Regions from separate parts of the Homo sapiens genome. Here region 1 is linked to region 2. Evidence: fine-mapped expression QTL. Tissue or cell type: whole blood. Region 2 holds a variant in brackets; the other region holds the start of a gene. All regions are shown on one strand. Distances are between the middles of the regions. Region 1 holds the start of CELF6 (CUGBP Elav-like family member 6). Region 2 overlaps ARIH1 (ariadne RBR E3 ubiquitin protein ligase 1).

Region 1 (9,102 bases), 160 kb after region 2:
GTGGCTCATGCCTGTAATAATAGCTACTTGGGAGGCTAAAGTGGAAGGATTGCTTGAGGCCAGGAGTTTGAGACCATTCTGGGCAACATAGCAAGACCCCATCTCTAAAAAAACAAAACAAAACAAAACAAAAAAACAAGAAGAAAGATAAAGAAAAGAGAAATGAAGAACATAGGCAACAAAAAGAAAACAAAAAATTAAGTGACAGACTTAAGCCCTAACATACCAATAATTACATTAAATGTAAATGTAAATTACAGGCTCACACCTGTAATACCAATAATTACATTAAATGTAAATGGTCTAAATATGTCAACTAAGACAAAGATTAGTAGAGTGGACTTTAAAAAAATGACCCAATTATATGCTGTCTAAAATAAACTCACTTAAATACAGCTATATACGTAGCTTGAAAGTAAAAGGATAGAAAAAGGTATATTTTGCAAAGATTAATCAAAAGAAAACATAAATGGCTATATTAATATCAAAGTAGCTCTCCACACAAAAAGCTTACCAAGAACAGAGTGACATTGCATAATAATAAAAGTATCAATTCATCAAGGCATCACAGTTTTTAATGTTTATGCCCCAAATGACAGAGCTACAGAATATGTGAAGCAAAAACTAATGGAACTGAAAGGAGAAATAGACAAATCCACAATTACAATTGAAGTCTTCAACACCTTTCTCTCAACAATTGATAAAACAACTAGACAAAATCAGCAAGCATATAGGGCCAGGCACTGTGGCTCTCACTTGTAATCCCAGCACTTTGGGAGGCTGAGGTGGGCAGATCACTTGAGGTCAGGAGGTCAAGACCAGCCTGGCCAACATGGTGAAACCGCTTCTCTACTAAAAATACAAGGTTGGGCACAGTGGCTCACACCTTTAATCCCAGCACTTTGGGAGGCCAAGGGGAGCGGATCACTTGAGGTCAGGAGTTTGAGACCAGCCTGGCCAACATGGTGAGACCCCATCTCTACTAAAAATACAAAAAAAATAGCTGAGTGTGGTGGCAGGCGCCTGTAGTCCCAGGCTTGGGACTGAGGGTAGCAAAACAAACCTCAACAAATGCAAAAGAATTGAGGCCAGGCTCAGTGGCTCACACCTGTAATCCCAGCACTTTGGGAGGCTGAGGCAGGCGGATCACCTGAGGTCAGGAGTTGGAGACCAGACTGGACTACATGGTGAAACCCCATCTCTACTAAAAGTACAAAAATTAGCCGGGCATGGTGGCGGGTGCCTGCAATCCCAGCTACTCAGGAGGCTGAGGCAGGAGAATTGCTTGAACCCGGGAAGCAGAGGTTGCAGTGAGCCAAGATCACGCCACTGCACTCCAGCCTGGGTGACAAAAGCGAGACTCCATCTCAAAAAAAAAAAAATTGAAATTATACACAGTGTGTTCTGACCACAATGGACTCAAACTAGAAATCAATAACAGAAAAATAATAGGCAAACCTCCAAACACTTAGAAACTAAACAATACATTTATAAATAATATATGGATCAAAGAGGAAGCCTCAAGGAAATTTTTTACTGTATTTTTCTTTTTCTGCAGAGAACTTTGTTCTGATTTTTGAATTGTTTTACTACTTTTGGGGTGAAAATTTTAAAAAATACATAGGACTGGGCCAGGCATGGTGGCTCACACCTGTAATCCCAGCACTTTGGGAGGCCTAGGCAAGCAGATCACGAGCTCGGGAGATCGAGACCATCCTGGCTAACATGGTGAAACGCCATCTCTACTAAAAATACAAAAAAAATTAGCTGGGCGTAGTGGCGGGCAACCGTAGTCCCAGCTACTCGGGAGGCTGAGGCAGGAGAATGGCGTGAACCCGGGAAGCGGAGCTTGCAGTGAGCTGAGATCGGGCCAGTGCACTCCAACCTGGGCGACAGAGCAAGACTCCATCTCAAAAAAAAAAAAAAAAAAAAAACTACATAGGACTGAATGAAAATGAAATTCCAGTAACCCATTTCGTGGTCAACTTATTACAAGGAGTAACTTTCTGTTAAAGGAGAAAAATAATTTATTTTATTTATTTATTCATTTAGTAAAAATGGGGTTTTGCCATATTGGCCAGGCTGGTCTCAAACTCCTGATCTCAAGCAATCCACCCACCTCGGCCTCCTGAAGTGCTGGGATTACTGGTGTGAGCCACCGCATCCCGCCAGAAAAATGATTTTTGAAAATCATAATTTGCTGCTGCATTTTTTTTTTTTTTTTGAGATGGAATCTCACTCTGTCACCCAGGCTGGAGTGCAGTGACACGATCTTGGCTCATTGCAACCTCCACCTCGTGGGTTCAAACGATTCTCCTGCTTCAGCCTCCAGAGTAGGAGGAGCCCGCCACCATGCCTGGCTAATTTTTGTATTTTTAGTAGAGACGGGATATTGTCATGTTGGCCAGGCTGGTCTTGAACTCCTGACCTCAAGTGATCTGCCCGCCTTGGCCTCCCAAAGTGCTGGGATTACAGGTGTGAGTCACCATGCTCAGCCAGAAAAATAAATCATTTAAAAATCATGATTTGCTTCTGAATTGAATATTGTTTTAAGAACTTTTTGATGATTCCAGTTGCTACTGCTGGTCTCCAGCAGTTTCTTAGAATAGTCAATGGACACAAGTTATGTTAAAATCTCTATTAGGCCAGGTGCAGTGGCACACTCCTGTAATCCCAGCACTCTGGGGCACCGAGGTGGGTGGATCACTTGAGCTCAGGAGTGTTCTAGACAAGCCTGGGCAGAATGGTGAAACCACCATCTCTACAAAAAAAAAAAAAGAAAAAAAATTATCCAGGCATGGTAGCGTGCACCTGTCATCCCAGCTACTTGGGAGGCTTAGGTGGGAGGATCGCTTGAACCCAGGAGGTTGAGGCTGCAGTGATCTTAGATCGCACCACTGCACTACAGCCTGGGTGACAGAATGATAACCTATCAAAAAAAAAAAAAGGAAATCTCTATTAAAATAATTAGCAATTTTACTGAAAGAGGCATGAAAAATATATTATGGAATAAATATATAATTTATGAAGTATGTGTCTTTGTCCAAACATTGTATTACTACTTTGTGCAAACATCACTGATCCATCAAGAGAATACCTAGACATGTGCAGGAGTAATAAAATTCCATCAGCTCTGATATTTTGCCAACTTTCAGTCATATAGAAAGCGTAGCTGTACATATGTCTTTCATTTTCGTAATTCTGAACCTGTATTTGTGAAAATAAGAGGGGAACATATTTAACAAATTGTAATTTGATTTGTATCTTTTAAATGTTTAGATGCACAGTATGTCGATTTCCATTTCTTATTTTGCGCTGGGCCCAACAAATGTTGGGGTGGGCCTGGCCCTAACATCCTCGACCCTCAGAACCTCAGCTTCCTTTTCCGGAAAAAGAGAACACTCCTGAGTTCACAGAACTGGGATGAACTGGGCACCTGGTGCATAATGGGTTCTGAGTAAATACGGCTAAGTTCCCTCACTCTCCTAAGGAGGAATCCGTGTTCAAGGAGTGTTTAAGGGGTTTTTATTTTATTCTTCCTTTCTTTTTAAGGCTGCAAGGGAGACGAATGTGTCTGAGGCTCAGGGGTAAGAAAGTGGTTAAAGACACCGAAGACAGAGATGTGTGATGGGGCGGGGTGGGATTGGCTCCGAGGGACTGGCTCGATAGTGGGAATAGAGAAGAGGAATCCCCATCCACCCCCGCAGGAAACGCACCAGCGTTTGGAGGTGTGTGTGCCTGCGTGTGCCTGCGTTTGCCTGTGTGTGCCTGTGTGTGCGGTGGGGATTAGCCCCGACTCCGGCAGACACCATCACGCATGACGAAGCTGCTTCCCCTCACGCGGCCCAAGGCGCACACGCGCGATCCACGGCCACGCCCGCACACACTCGACACACACAGGGCATTCGAGGGTCCGGTTGCCATGGCGAGCAGGAGCGCGTGAGCCCAGCCGCCCCCCCCGCCCCCGGCGAGCCCAGTCAACTCCCACTCTGATTGGCGGCTGCTTCCTCATTATGCAAATCATTTGCGTAGACTCGGCGGCCAGCTGCCTGACGTCACCAAGCACGGGGGCTGGGGCTCGGGGCTCGGCTCTGGGAGAGCTCGGGCGGGAGCCCAGAGAGAGCCGCACGGGGACCTCAAGCCAGACCCCAGCGTTCAGCCGCCACCTCGGCCCGGGCCCGCCCCGCCCCGGCCCCGCCCCTTTCCTGCCCGCCCCACCCCCTCTACGCCCCTCCACCCGGACCCCGCCCCCTGGGCAGCCCCCCGCCCTCTCCGCCCGGGCTCCGCCCCCTCCCCCTGGCCCTCGCCACCGGTCCAGGGAGGGGACGGCGGGACAGGCGGGACCAGTGGGACCGGCGGGAGGGCTGACAGGGCGGGGACATGGCCGCGGCGCCGGGAGGGTCAGCGCAGCCCGCTGGCCCCGGCCCGCGCCTGGGTTTCAGCACCGCGGACAGCGGCGTCGGCATGAGCGGGCTAAACCCCGGTCCCGCCGTACCCATGAAGGACCACGACGCCATCAAGCTCTTCGTGGGGCAGATCCCGCGGGGCTTGGACGAGCAGGACCTCAAGCCGCTGTTCGAGGAGTTCGGCCGCATCTACGAGCTGACGGTGCTGAAGGACCGGCTCACCGGCCTCCACAAAGGTGCGCGGGGTCAGCCCAGCCCAGCCCAGCCCCAATCCGATTAGAGTGTGGCCCGACCCCAGCCCAGCCCCAGCCCTAGCCCTGCCGAGAGCCAGTCCAACACCAGTCCAATATCAGCCCCACCTCAGCCCAGCCCCCTTCCCAGATCACAGAATTTTCTCTCTGACATCCTCCCTCTGATTATCACTGTGGTCCCCTAACATGTTCTCCACTCTAACCTCCAAATTCCTGGCCTCCACCTCTCACATCCCAGCAGTCCCTGCCTTTCAATTGGACCTTTCCACCACCTCTCCCATCAGACCTAAAATTCTGGAATTTGAAAACTTATTCCACCTTCTAGATCTCGAATACCCTCAATTTCCCAAACCCTGAGCCCAAACACTCCTGAATCCTCCATCTGGTGGCACCTCACTCAGGCCTAACCACCCACATGCATATCTTGGACTTGCACCCCTCCTCTGGCCTCCTAGTCCGGCCATCCCCCTCAAGAGCCTTCTTTTGACTCTCAGACTGCCAACCTAAAACACCGCAGACCCAAACCCTCCCCTTCTTCAGAACCCAGACCTGTCTAACACAAAATCCAATTCAATTCCCAGGAGGCTCTCAGTTCCAGACACCCCCTCATGTTCAACAACAGCCCCAATCTCTCCTGCCCTTCGCCAGAATCCCAATGCACTCTACCTCTTTTGATTTCAGTTCAGAACCCTGACCTCAGCTGGGAACTCCTGCCACCCTGTGTCCCTTTCTTCTTGGATTTCTCTCAGCTAAATCCACACTTCTTTCCTTCTCTAATCCCCTCACTCCTGTGCCTCTTCTTTGCTCCTCCCCAGTCCTCTTTATGGCCTCTTTCTTTCCCTCCCCTCACAGGCTGGTCCCAGTCCAGGCCCATTCTCAGGGTGAGTCAGGCTGAAGAGACAGAAGGAGATCTTCTCCCTGCCCTTTCTAGAGAGATACACGGTCCTGTTCGGCCACACCCCTTTCTTCCTGTAGAGAGAGGGAGGAGGCTTGTTTACATGCAGAAAAGTCTGTCCAGGCAGGGCTGGAGTAAGAGAGCCAGAGTCACATGTCATACATGGGCAGGAGAAGGGGAGATGATTTGAGAAGGAACACTCTTATCTCCTCCCCCACCACCACCACCATGCTGTGCTTTCAAGTTTTTGCTGGGAAAGAGTCACCAACTATCCTCCATGATCTTCCTAAGAGAGGAGTGGTGGGCCTTGGGTAACAGCTAAAGGTACATTCCTAAGGACTGAGAGCTGGAATCAGACTGCCACCTCTTCAACTTGGAGGCCTCGTAGGGTTCCTTGGCACACTAATGTAGGCACTTCGAGAAAATGCCAATAGAAGAGCTAGGACCATCTGGCTAGGAGTACAGCTTCCACCCTTTGGGCTGGGATTGTGTTAATGGGTGTATGAAAGGACAATACCTCACCATCTAGAGTCCTTCTAATGCACTCCCACTACCTGCCTGTCTGTCCATCCCTCTGTAGTAACTCATTTTCTTATTTTTAGACATTGATTTCAGGATGTACATACAAAGCTAATCTTTGTAGGCCATCCGTACAATAAGGGAAGTGTATAGAATACCCTTAAATCTCACTCTTCTCACTATCAGTCTCTGAACTGTTCCCTCATCCTCTCTCTTTTCATTTAGCTCTAATTCTGCCTGTTATTTTCATTCATCTGTCTCTCAAACCATGCTTCTCTGTCTTTTCTTCCCTTCATTCTTCCACCCTCTATCCCGGCTAGTCCACATGGGGCTTCTTTAGGCAGCAACTGGGCCCCTGAGCCTTTCAGACAGGCAACCTGCCCGGTTTGGACGTCAGGTGATATGGGTTGGTAGCAAAACACAGAGCAGGGATGTAAGTGGAATCAGGTGTTTGGTGATTTATTTCCAAACTAAATCACAACTCTCCAAGGCAAGTGTTGCCTTCCAAGATGATTGTAGAGGGTCTCCAAGTCAACATCTTCCTCATCCTCTCCCCAGAAACAGTGACTCATTTTCCTTTTGATGTCTGGGTACCGAGGCAGGCAGCCACAGTGCTTTGAAAACAACCCCAGCTTGGGAGTTAAGACATTCCAAATCCTGCCCTGCCACTGACCCACTCTCTGGGCTTCAGTTTCCCTGTTGATGTGATAAGAGTTTTGCTCAGTTCTCTAAGTTCCCTTTAACTCAATGAATGTCCGGCAATAAACCCATCTTAATGGGGCAGCCCTGTAGAAGAGGCCAGAAAAAAATGTTCCCATTTGCCTTTCTAATCTGCTGAGGTCTAAGTGGAAATCTGCCCCAAGTTCCTAATGGCTCACCATATCCACTTTCTCCTCCTTCAGTCCTTCTCCCTCCTACACTCAGAATGCTCCTTTTGAAAACAGATCTTATCATCTCACAGATCTGCTTAAAACCCTTTAAAGTGGCTCTCTATTGCTCTTAGGAAAAAGTTCAAAATCCAACTGAGGCCCACAAGGCTACATATGACTTGATTCCTGCATATCTCACTAGCCACTCTGCCCCCATACACCAGCCTCCAGCCACACTAACCTATCCATTTCCCCAACACACCAAATTCTTGATTCAGTCTTCATATATGCTTTTCCCTCTGTCTGAAATAATCACTGTCCTTTTCATCACCTGATTGTTAAGGACTCAGTGTTCTTGTTCTCGAGGACTCAGTGCCTTCTTTGAGACATTACTCAACCCTTTGGACTTGTTTAGGGGTCCCTCATGATTTGTCTAATCCCCATGAGGGCAGGGAATGTGTGTCTTGTTGCCACTCTATCTCCAAGGTCATCAAAATGCCCCACCATAATAAGTAAGTGTTCAATAAATATTTTCTGAATGAATGAGTGCTCAGTGGCTGTTGGAAAGGAGGAGAGTGCTGCTTCAGTGCTTCCTAGCAGGCTACAGGTCCTGAGGCTGAACAAACAGAGGGCTAAACTTGACCCTTTGGCTCAACCTAGACCTCTTCGCTGACCCATATATGCTGGCCCTTTTAGAGGAGCCAGATTTGAGGCACAATAACTCTTTAAGAGGCCCTACCTCAAAGCCCTAGGAGGGTTGACAGATCAAGATCCTTGAACAGGATTAGGGGGTCCCTGGAAACTCCCACCTATGGGAAGCCCTTAAACCAATCCCATCTTCTAAGTCTCAAATCAATCCATTCCCCAGCTTCAAACTTAGGGGAGGGAGACATGGACAAGAGCTGGGGGCTCCTGGGGTTGGCTCCCAATCCTTCTTTTACTCTTTTGCCTCCTCCCATCCGAAACTGAGTTGGGAAGGAATTGAGGCTGATCCTGGGAGACTCCATGAGTCTGAATCCAAAAAGGAAGGGGAAGTCTGGGTTAAAGATGATGATAAAGCTGCTTAGGGAGGTTTAACCCCAACAGGACTTGTGACTGGAGTGGGGAGGGGAGATGTGGGATTGTATGCACATGTGACTGGGTGTGGGCACATATGTTCTCTGGGCAGGATGCCAGGAGCAAATGAAAGGGAGCCAGAGCCTGGGACACTGGTCCCCAGGCACATGAAGCCCCTCCCTCCAGAGGTGGGAGGCAGAGAGGGCTTCTCAGAAAGCAGAGTCCTTGCTTAAAGGAGAGTGGCCTTAAGTTTGTCAACTTAGTGGGGTATTTCGAAGAAGAATAGTTGGGGGTTTCAGGAAACCCCCTGAGCCAGCCTCTTCCTCCTCAGGCTGTGCCTTCCTCACCTACTGCGCCCGGGACTCTGCTCTCAAGGCCCAGAGTGCACTGCACGAGCAGAAGACCCTGCCAGGGGTAAGTCCTCCAGGTTGGGGGGTGGGAATCACCTCAGGCTGGGGACAGTGCCCTGTGTGCATGCCAAAGCAGCATGTGGGGGCTGGGTTGGGACCGAGAACTAGAAGCAGAGTCATCTTTCTAGGAGAGGGCTTCCTGTACCCTGAACAGCAACAAATTCTTTGTTACATCCAATCTTCTGGCTCAAAAAAGGGGCTCAAGATCCTTGGGCCAGGCGTTCCACCCATCTTTTAGGAGAGGCATCAGTGTTGAGGGCTAAGCTAGAATTTATTCACCTTGGTAAAATTATGGCTTTGGGTGTCTCTTGTCACTGGTGTGAGCATGTATGCAGATACATGGGGTAGAGGTTCTGCTGGACTGGTAGCCCATTTTCTCTAGTCCTAAGGTCCTTGCTGGAACTTCTCTCTAGTCCTTTTCCTGTAATGGTTATTTTTGGTGCCTTGACTCACTAAGATTGTCTTCCCTCCACACTGCAAACACTTGGCTAAAGTTAGGGGAGACCTGATTCTACAGGCAGCTTGGCTTGTAGGCACCAATGGTACCTGGTCTGGTCTTGGCTAATGGATAATCAGTCAACAAAAGGCAAGGTGGGACCTACTGACCATATGGCAGAATAAAGGGGTGATCGTTAGTAACTAGCATGGGTTTACCAAGAGCAAGTCATACTATACAGCCTTGTTTTCTCTTGTCCA
Region 2 (9,102 bases):
ATGCCACCAAGCCCAGCTAATTTTATTTATTTTTTTTGTAGAGAAAAAGTCTATGTAGCCCAGGCTGGTCTCAAACTCCTGGACTCAAGTAATCCTCTGGCCTCAACCTCCCAAAGTTGTGGGATTGCAGGCGTGAGCCACTGCACCTGGGTGATTCCACTGTCTTTAACATCATCACTGTGTCAGTTCACACCCAGCGCCAGGGAACTATACGCAAATAATAAAGCTTCACCTAAAAGGTTGAATATTCAGGGACCTTAAGAAGCTTGTCCTCTTGGAATTCAAACATTTCTTCCTTGCCATCTTCTTACACTACCACTTTGGCATTATCTAGAAATCATAAAATAATTTGTTAGTGCCAGAAGAAAATCTTGTCTGGATCCCTTTGGTTTACCACAAGGAAACTGAGAAAGCAAGCATTTACTAGGCAAGGACAAACTTCAACAAATATTTACTGAGTTTCTTCTGTCAGAGAAGAAACTCTGCTATGAACACAAAGATGAAGGAGTTTTAGTTCTCACCTTCAAAACCCTCATATATAGCTAGAGGCTTGGATATAGGGATAGCTATATCATAACCTCTTATAGGCTATACCAAATATCCATATGAAGCACTATTCAAACATAGATAAGGAAGCACAGGAAAGGTAGAGAAGAACCTGAAAGGAGATGAGCCACCGCAGCCAGCCTGGCAGATTCTCAATAGGAATATATCAGGCAGTTAAGAAGAGAAAGAGAGCTGGGCACGGTGGCTCATGCCTGTAATCCCAACACTTTGGGAGGCTGAGGTGGGAAGATCGTTTGAGTCCAGGAGGTCGAGACCAGTCTAGGCAACATGGCAAAAAATTGTCTCTACCAAAAACAAAACAAACAAACAAAAAATAAATAAATAAAAATAATAATACAAAAAATTAGCCAGGTGTAGTGGCATGCAACTGTAGTCCCAGCTACTCAGGAGGCTGAGGTGGGAGGATCGCTTGAGCCCAGGAGTTCAAGGCTGTAGTGAGCCGTGATCGTGCCACTGCACTCCAGCCTGAGCAACAGAGCAAAAACCCTGTCTCAAGAAAAAAGAGAGACAGAAAGAAAAGAAAAGGTATCAAAAGAAGAGGGACAAGTATGAACAAAAGCATGAAAACACAAATATGTGTTACACAGTAAAGAATTACAAACAGTGCAACTGGGGGTGATAAGGGATGAGGAACAACTGCAGATGAGATTGAAAAAAATTAGCTATGTTAAGATGGGGAAGCCATGAATGCCATAGTAAGGAGTCTGGGATAGACTTTTGACAGAAAGTCTCTTTTTAGCAGGAGGATGACTATTAAATTTGTGTTTGGTAACAGAATGATACACTGGAAGCCCAGAGACAAGGAGGCAAAATAAAAAGGTCCTAAACTAGGATTAGTTAGTAAAAAGGATAGCAACAACATGAAACAAATTTCAGAGGTAACTTGATCAGGGATAACTGGATGTGGAAAATGAAGGAAAAAAAAAAGGATGACTCAAATCCCAAGAATGGTTCTCAGATAAGCCAATAAAAGGGGGAAAAGCCTCAAAGAGAGAAGGTATTAAATTTGAGTTTCAAGTAAGTTTCAGATAAATATCTGTCCAAATGTCACAAATTCCAAGATAAATGTCCACATTAGAGGCTTTCACTTATAAATACTTGCTAAGAATCAGGTAATACTTCTCGGTTTCTAGTTTACACTTTATCCCTAAAAACACTGTACAATTGTGATTAGGAGAGAGGACATATTACCAGGTAATTAGAGCCAGTTAATATCTGAGTTATAAGTATGACAGTTTCAAAGGCAATGGCAAAGCAAGCCTGGGGAGAAGTGTCTAGGATGATAGCTATTCTTAGCATTGTCTAAGCAAATGTCTCAGTAACAAGAAAATGTTACCTAATACTTCATTACCTGCTCTGTTTTTTGCCAAAATGTATTGTCAGGGCACTTCTGACACTTTTAAATGGAACAGAGCAAAAAAGGAAAGAACAATACTACACAACAATATTTACATACAAAAAAAAATAATAATAATAATAGGAGAAAATTCCTGAATATTTGGCATTTTTCATTTAAATCTTCAAACTTTTGGCCTTAAAACCAAAATTGTCAGGCTGGGCACAGTGGTTCATGCCTGTATCTCAGCACTTTGGGAGGCTGAGGAGGGCGGATCACCTGAAGACAGGAGTTCGAGACCAGCCTGGCCAACATGGTGAAACCCTGTCTCTACCAAAAAATACAAAAATTAGCCAGGTGTGGTGATGCATGCCTGTAATCTCAGCTAATTGGGAGGCTGAGGCACGATAATCACTTGAACCCAGGAGGTAGAGGTTGCAGTGAGCCAAGATCATGCCACTGCACTCCAGCCTGGGCCACAGAGACTCTGTCTCAAAAAAAAAAAAAAAAAAAAAGTCATTTTTAAAAATGAAAAAAAAAAAAAGTAGGGCTCTGGAAAGCTGATTTGCCAGAGCAGATGTTAGAGAGCATTAAGAATTTTTTAAGCCACCTTCTGAGATAGCATACTATCCATCACTTAAACACTAACTGGGCATCAACTATACCCCAAGCTGTATCAAATGAGACATTACAGCAGTCCCCTTCATCCTCAGGGAACATGTCCCAAGACCCTCAGTGGAAGCTTGAAAGTGTAGGTAATACCGAACTTATACATGCTATGTTTTTTCAATCTGGTAACAGTGAAGTGACCAGCCGAGGCCAGTAGCAGGTAGGTAGTCTATATACTGCTATATACTGGATAAAGGGATGATTCACGTCCTGGGTGGGATGGTGAGAGATTTCATCACACTACTCAGAATGGTGTACAATTTAAAACTTACAAATTGTTTTTTTCTGAAATTTTCTATTTAATATTTTCAGACTGCTGCACACCTCAGGTAACTGAAACCTTGGAAACTGAAACTGTAGATAAGGGGAAACCATTGTATGGTCAAGCCAGATGACCTCCTATCACTAGGTGAATGACAATTTAGGGAAAAAAAAATTAAAAATTTAGAAAGAAACTTAAATCATAAGTGATTATAGAAATCTACTGACTTTATAAAAGTGGCTTGACAGCTTTTTAAAAAAATATACATGAGGCTTTTTAAAACACTGAAAATAATGCAAGGACCACCACTACTATCTCCATGGGCCCCAAAGGATCCAGTCACTCCAGGTTAGAAACAGCCTGATTACTATCTCATCCAATAATGTCAACCTAAATAAATTCTCATTCTTCTATTTATCCCATCATTTAATGAAAATAATTAAGCTATTTATACAAAGTTACATAGTAATATAGTGTCAAGATCAAACGATGAGTTGTGTATATACAGTCAATAATTTAGCAAAGTTATGGCCTATGATACTATGCCTATTATAAGAAAGACAGCAATTACCTAGAAGGCAGGAATGACTGAGGAAAGGGGGGTTGATTAACCTCAGGAAGAAAAATTTTTCCTTCAGGATTCCAAAATGATAGTTATATAAAAAACAAAACCATTCAGGGTGCTACAGGTACTAAGAACAATGAGTGAAAGCTAATACGGAAGTAGATTTTCTTTCCATTAAAAAAAAAAATCAATAGGCAAACACTGTATTGAGATGCATCACAAAAATAGCTCACTGTTATTTATTTGTAGTTAAGCAGAGACGGCAGTGTTTTAGAAAGATTTCTTACAAAAGCAGGAGCTCTCGATCCTGGATGTGCATTAAAATAATCCAGGAAAGATTCTTGTTTAACGGCAATGCCTGGTCCAAACCCCCCAGAGACCCACTTACTTGGTATGGGGTAGGGCCTGCCTGCCTGTATTTTTTAAAATCCCCAGGTAAGAAAATCTGAGTAAGATCACATCAATGTCATTACCCTCATGGTGATACTGTGCAAGATGTTTTGCAAGATACTGTTTTTATAAGATGTTACCACTGTAGAAAAAATCGGTAGAGTACGTGGGATTCAATGCTATACAACTTCAGTCACGCCAAGAATGGCTATAATCAAAAAATTAAAAAATAATAGATGTTGTCATGGATGTGGTGAGAAGGGAACACTTCTACGCTGCTGGTGGGAATGTAAACTAGTACAACCACTATAGAAAACAGTGTGGAGATTCCTTAAAGAACTAAAAGTAGAACTACTATTTGATTCAGCAATCACACTACTGGGTATCCACCCAGAGGAAAAGTCATTATACGAAAAAGATACTTGCACACGCCATTTGTAGCAGTACAATTCGCAACTGCAAAAATGGGGAACCAGCCCAAATGCCCATCAATCAACAAGTGGATAAAGAAACTGTGGTGTGTGTGTGTGTGTGTATATATATGTATATATATACACATATATATGTATGCACACATATATATATACATATATACACACACATACATATACGTATATACGTATACACAC[G/A]CATACATATACGTATATATATGTATACACACACATATATATATACACATATATATATATATATGATGGAATACTACTCAGCCATAAAAGGGAATGAGTTAATGGCATTTGCATCAACCTGGATGGGATTGGAGACTTATTATTCTAAGAGAAGTAAATCAAGAACAGAAAACCAAACATTATATGTTCTCACTCATAAGTGGGAGCTAAGCTATCAGCATGCAAAAGCCTAAGATTGATATAATGAACTCTGGGGACTCGGGGGAAAAAGGTGAGAAGGGGGTGAGAGATAAAACACTACAAACTGGGTTCAGTGTATATTGCTCAGATGATGGGTGCACCAAAATCTCACAAATCACCACTAAAGAATTTACTTATGTAACCAAATACCACCTCTTCCCCAATAACCTAGGGAAATAAAATTTTTTGGAAAAAAGAATATGTGGGATTTTTGCATTATTTCTTGTAACTGCATGTGAATCTACAATTTTCTTTTCTTTTCTTCTTTTTTTTTTTTTTTTTTGATGGAGTTTCACTCTTGTTGCCCAGGCTGGAGTGCAATGGCATAATCTTGGCTCACTGCAACCTCTGTCTCCTGGGTTCAAGTGATTCTCCTGCCTCAGCCTCCCGAGTAGCTGGGATTACAGGCGCCCACCACCATGCCCGGCTAATTTTTGTATTTTTTTAGTAGAGACGGGGTTTCGCCATTTGGCCAGGCTGGTCTCGAACTCCTGACTTCAGGTGATCCGCCTGCCTCGGCCTCCCAAAGTGCTGGGATTACAGGCGTGAGCCACCATGCCCGGCTGTGAATCTACAATTTTCTATTTTAAAAACAGTAATGAAAAAAATCCCCAGGTGATTCCATTACGTAGCTAGAGTTAAAAAAAAAAAAAATCAGTAAACTGGAGAATCTCAAATTCCTACCAATTCTGAGACTACAAGCTATTTTAAACTTAAGCCACTGAAAGGTTATTAGGAATGTTTATCATTTACAGGTATAATGTTTTGCAAAGCCAAAAGTAATTAATTTACGGTTAATCCAAAATAAAAAATCCAAAACACTATGTTCTCCCAATAGCATACAAAAAGATTGGATAGAAAGGCATTATACAATAGCTGTAATTTACCTCTTAACAGAGAGAGACAGAGACAAACAGCCGGCCTCTAAGATAGCCCCCAAAGACCCCTGCCTCCTGGTCTTCACATCTTTGTATAATCCCCTCCGATTGAGTATGGGCTGGATTTGGTTATTCACTTACAACAAATAGAATATTGCAAAGTGATGCGACGTTACTTCTGAAATTAAGTTATAAAAACTTTGTGGCTTCCATCGTATGGGCCTTTTCTCTAAGATCCCTCACTCTGGAGGAAACAAGCTACTGTGTTGTCAGCCACTTTATGGAGAGGCCCACATGGCAAGGAACTGATATCTCTGGGCAACAACCAGCCAGTGAAAATCTGGCCTGGTCACAGCCAAATGAGTGAGCTCGGAAGGGGAAGCTTCCCCAGTCAAGCCTTGAGGACTGCTACCCAGGCCAGACACGGTGGCTCATGCCTGTAATCCCAGCACTTTAGGAGGCTAAGGCGGGCAGATCCCTTGAATTAAGGTGTTCAAGAGCAGCCTAGGCAACATGGCAAAACAAAAAAATACTGGTCTCTACCAAAAAACCCACAAAAACAAAAAAATAAGCTGGGGTGTGGTGGTGCACATCTATAGTCCCAACTACTCAGGAGGCTGAGGTAAGAGGATCACTTGGACTCAAGAGGTGAGGGTTGCAATGAGCCGAGATTATGCCATTGCACTCCAGCCTGGGCACCACAGCAAGCCTCTGTCTTTAAAAAAAAAAAAAAAAAAGAGAGAGAGAGAACTGCTACCAAGCCGTCACCTTGGTTGCAGCCTTGTAAGAGACCATAAGCCAGAGGCCCCCAGGTAAGCTGCATCCAGAATTGTGACTCACAGAAACTATGATATAACAGATCCTTGTTTTTTTAAGCCACTAAGTTTTGGGGTAACATAAGGCAAAAGATAACCAATCTACATAGTTACCACAGGTCAACCCCAAAAGAATCTAATGTGATGACTTCTGCTTACCTTTCATCACAGTATTTAATCTCCCAGGTTCTACATTATTATCCAGCATTTATAAGCTCCATTCTACTTTAGCTGATTTCACCATTACCCAAAAACTCTCCTCATTCTCACCTCATTCAGTTCCTTAGAATGACTTCCTCTTTTTTATCCACCCAAATCCTAGCCATCTTTGACAACACCTACAGAGGTCTCTTCCATGAGTATCTATTACTATCCACTTATTTAAATTACTCACTAACCTAACAGCTTTAACTCTAAGAGATTCTCAACTCCTTAAGAATAAGTCTTCTCATATTCCTTTAAACAGGACTTTATATCTATCCAGGACTTTATATCTCTTCCAGCATACTAATAAATTAGAAAACTCAACATTCTATATTAAAAAAATCTAGGACTGGAAGGGAAATCAAGAACTCCAATCTAGAATGTCAGATGTCACTAGTTTAGTTTGTCTATTTGAAAATACTGGCCGGGTGCAGTGGCTCATGCCTGTAATCCCAGCACTTTGGGAGGCCAAGTCGGGTGGATCACCTGAGGTCAGGAGTTCGAGATCAGCCTGGCCAACATGGTGAAACCCCGTCTCTACCAAAAATACAAAATTAGCCGGGCGTAGTGGTGGGCGCCTGTAATCCCAGCTACTCGGGAGGCTGAAGGAGGAGAATCGCTTGAACCCAGCAGGCGAAGGTTGCAGTGAGCCGAGATGGCGCCACTGCACCCCAGCCTGGGCAAGAGAGAAAAGACTCTGTCTCCAAAAAAGAAAAGAAAAGAAAAGAAAATACTGAGTAAAGACCACCTTAGCTGAAGGATAGCATAGCATGAAGGATAGCATCTACGATGACAAACATCTTCCAACCCTATGATTAGCCTAGTAAACGTTGCCTAGGTTCTGGAAATTTTCCCATTATTACCTTTTTTTTGAAGTAGAGTCTCCCTCTGTCACCCAGGCTAGAGTGCAGTGACACTATCTCAGCTCACTGCAACCTCCAATTCCCAGGTTCAAGCAATTCTCCTGCCTCAAGTCTCCCAAGTAGCTGGGATTACAGGCACAGGCCACCACGCCCAGCTAGTGTTTCACCATATTGGCCAGGCTGGTCTCAAACTCCTGACCTCAAGTGATCTGCCTGGCACAGTCCCCAAAGTGCTGGGATTACAGGTGTGAGCCACCGTGACTGGTCCCCTATTATTAGTTTCTTAAACAATTTATCTTCCCTCATTAACCCACCTCTGTAGTAATCTATCACTACACGTAACACATAGAGAAACACTGCTATTAAATTTCAACTACATCAGCAGTTCTCAAACTTTAGCTTGCATCACCATCACCTAGAAGGCTTGTTAAAACAGACAGCCAGACCCCATCCCCAGAGTTTGATTCATAGGACTACTGCCATAGCAATTCAACAAGTCAGTGTAATTTAAACTTACAGCTCAAGGAGATCAGCTGGGAAAATATAAAAGTCCAAAAGAAATAAATCTAAACTATATCAAACACTTTAATAACTTCAAAACACATGTGCCTGCACACATCATGCACAGGCTTGTACACCCTCTTCCTCCTCTCCCAATTAATGAACATAACCACAATATGCACACCTGAATTCAATTTCTTGGAAAAAATGAACATCTCCAATTAACTGAGGTTTTTAAAATGATGTTAAACGAATAAAACACTTAATGTAAAAAAGGACCAACCTAGTATTTCAACTCCCTCATTTTCAGTCCCAGATTAAAAACAAAACAAGGCCGGGCAAGGTGGCTCACTGTGATCCCAGAACTTTGGGAGGCCGAGGCGGGCAGATCACCTGAGGTCGGGAGTTTGAGACCAGCCTGACCAACATGGAGAAACCCCCATCTCTACTAAAAATACAAAATTAGCCAGGCGTGGTGGCATACGCCTGTAATCCTAGCTACTCAGGAGGCTGAGGCAGGAGAATCGCTTGAACCTGGGAGGCAGAGGTTGCAGTGAGCTGAGATCGCGTCATTGCACTCCAGCCTGGGCAACAAGAGAGAAACTCCATCTCAACAACAACAACAAAAAGTGTGGCTGGGCACCGTGGCTCATGCCTATAATCCCAACACTCTGGGAGGCCAAGGTAGGTCGATCATTTGAGGTCAGGAGTTCGAGACCAGCCTGGCCAACATGGTGAAACCTCATCTCTAATAAAATACAAAAAATAGCTGGGTGTGGTGGCGCGTGCCTGTAATCCCAGTTACTTGAGAGGCTGAAGCAGGAGAATCGCTTGAACCCTGGAAGTGGAGGTTGCAGTGAGCCAAGATCAGGCCACTGCACTCCAGCCTGGGTGACACAGTGAGACATGTATAAAAAAAAAAAAAAAAAATTTGAAGGTTCTGAGATATTAACTAGACAGAGTAAAAACCAGGGCTATAACTGACTCCCCAATCAGTAAACAATATGCTAGAATAGTACACTGTTGACCGGGCACGGTGGCTCATGCCTGTAATCCCAGCACTTTGGCAGGCCGAGGTGGGCGGATCACGAGGTCAGGAGATCCAGATCATCCTGGCTAACATGGTGAAACCCCATCTCTACTAAAAAATACAAAAAAATTAGCCAGGCATGGTAGCGGCTGC

Evidence for each region. PIP is the estimated chance that this variant, and not a neighbour inherited with it, causes the effect.
Region 1: CELF6 starts here. The variant in region 2 is fine-mapped to the expression of CELF6 in whole blood (TOPMed, PIP 0.93).

What each region holds. Positions count from the first base shown.
Region 1 is chr15:72,315,153-72,324,254 of GRCh38, reverse strand. It overlaps CELF6 (CUGBP Elav-like family member 6), which reads left to right and starts at 4,098. Exons shown (of 13, transcript NM_052840.5): 1 at 4,098-4,642; 2 at 8,328-8,410. The coding sequence starts at 4,381. RefSeq lists silencers at 3,962-4,011, 4,072-4,411.
Region 2 is chr15:72,480,011-72,489,112 of GRCh38, reverse strand. The region is part of intron 1 of ARIH1 (ariadne RBR E3 ubiquitin protein ligase 1); the gene reads right to left. Among named protein-coding and RNA genes, the nearest start is that of ARIH1, 10 kb to the right of the region's middle. The variant G/A (reference allele first, on the strand shown) is at 4,419.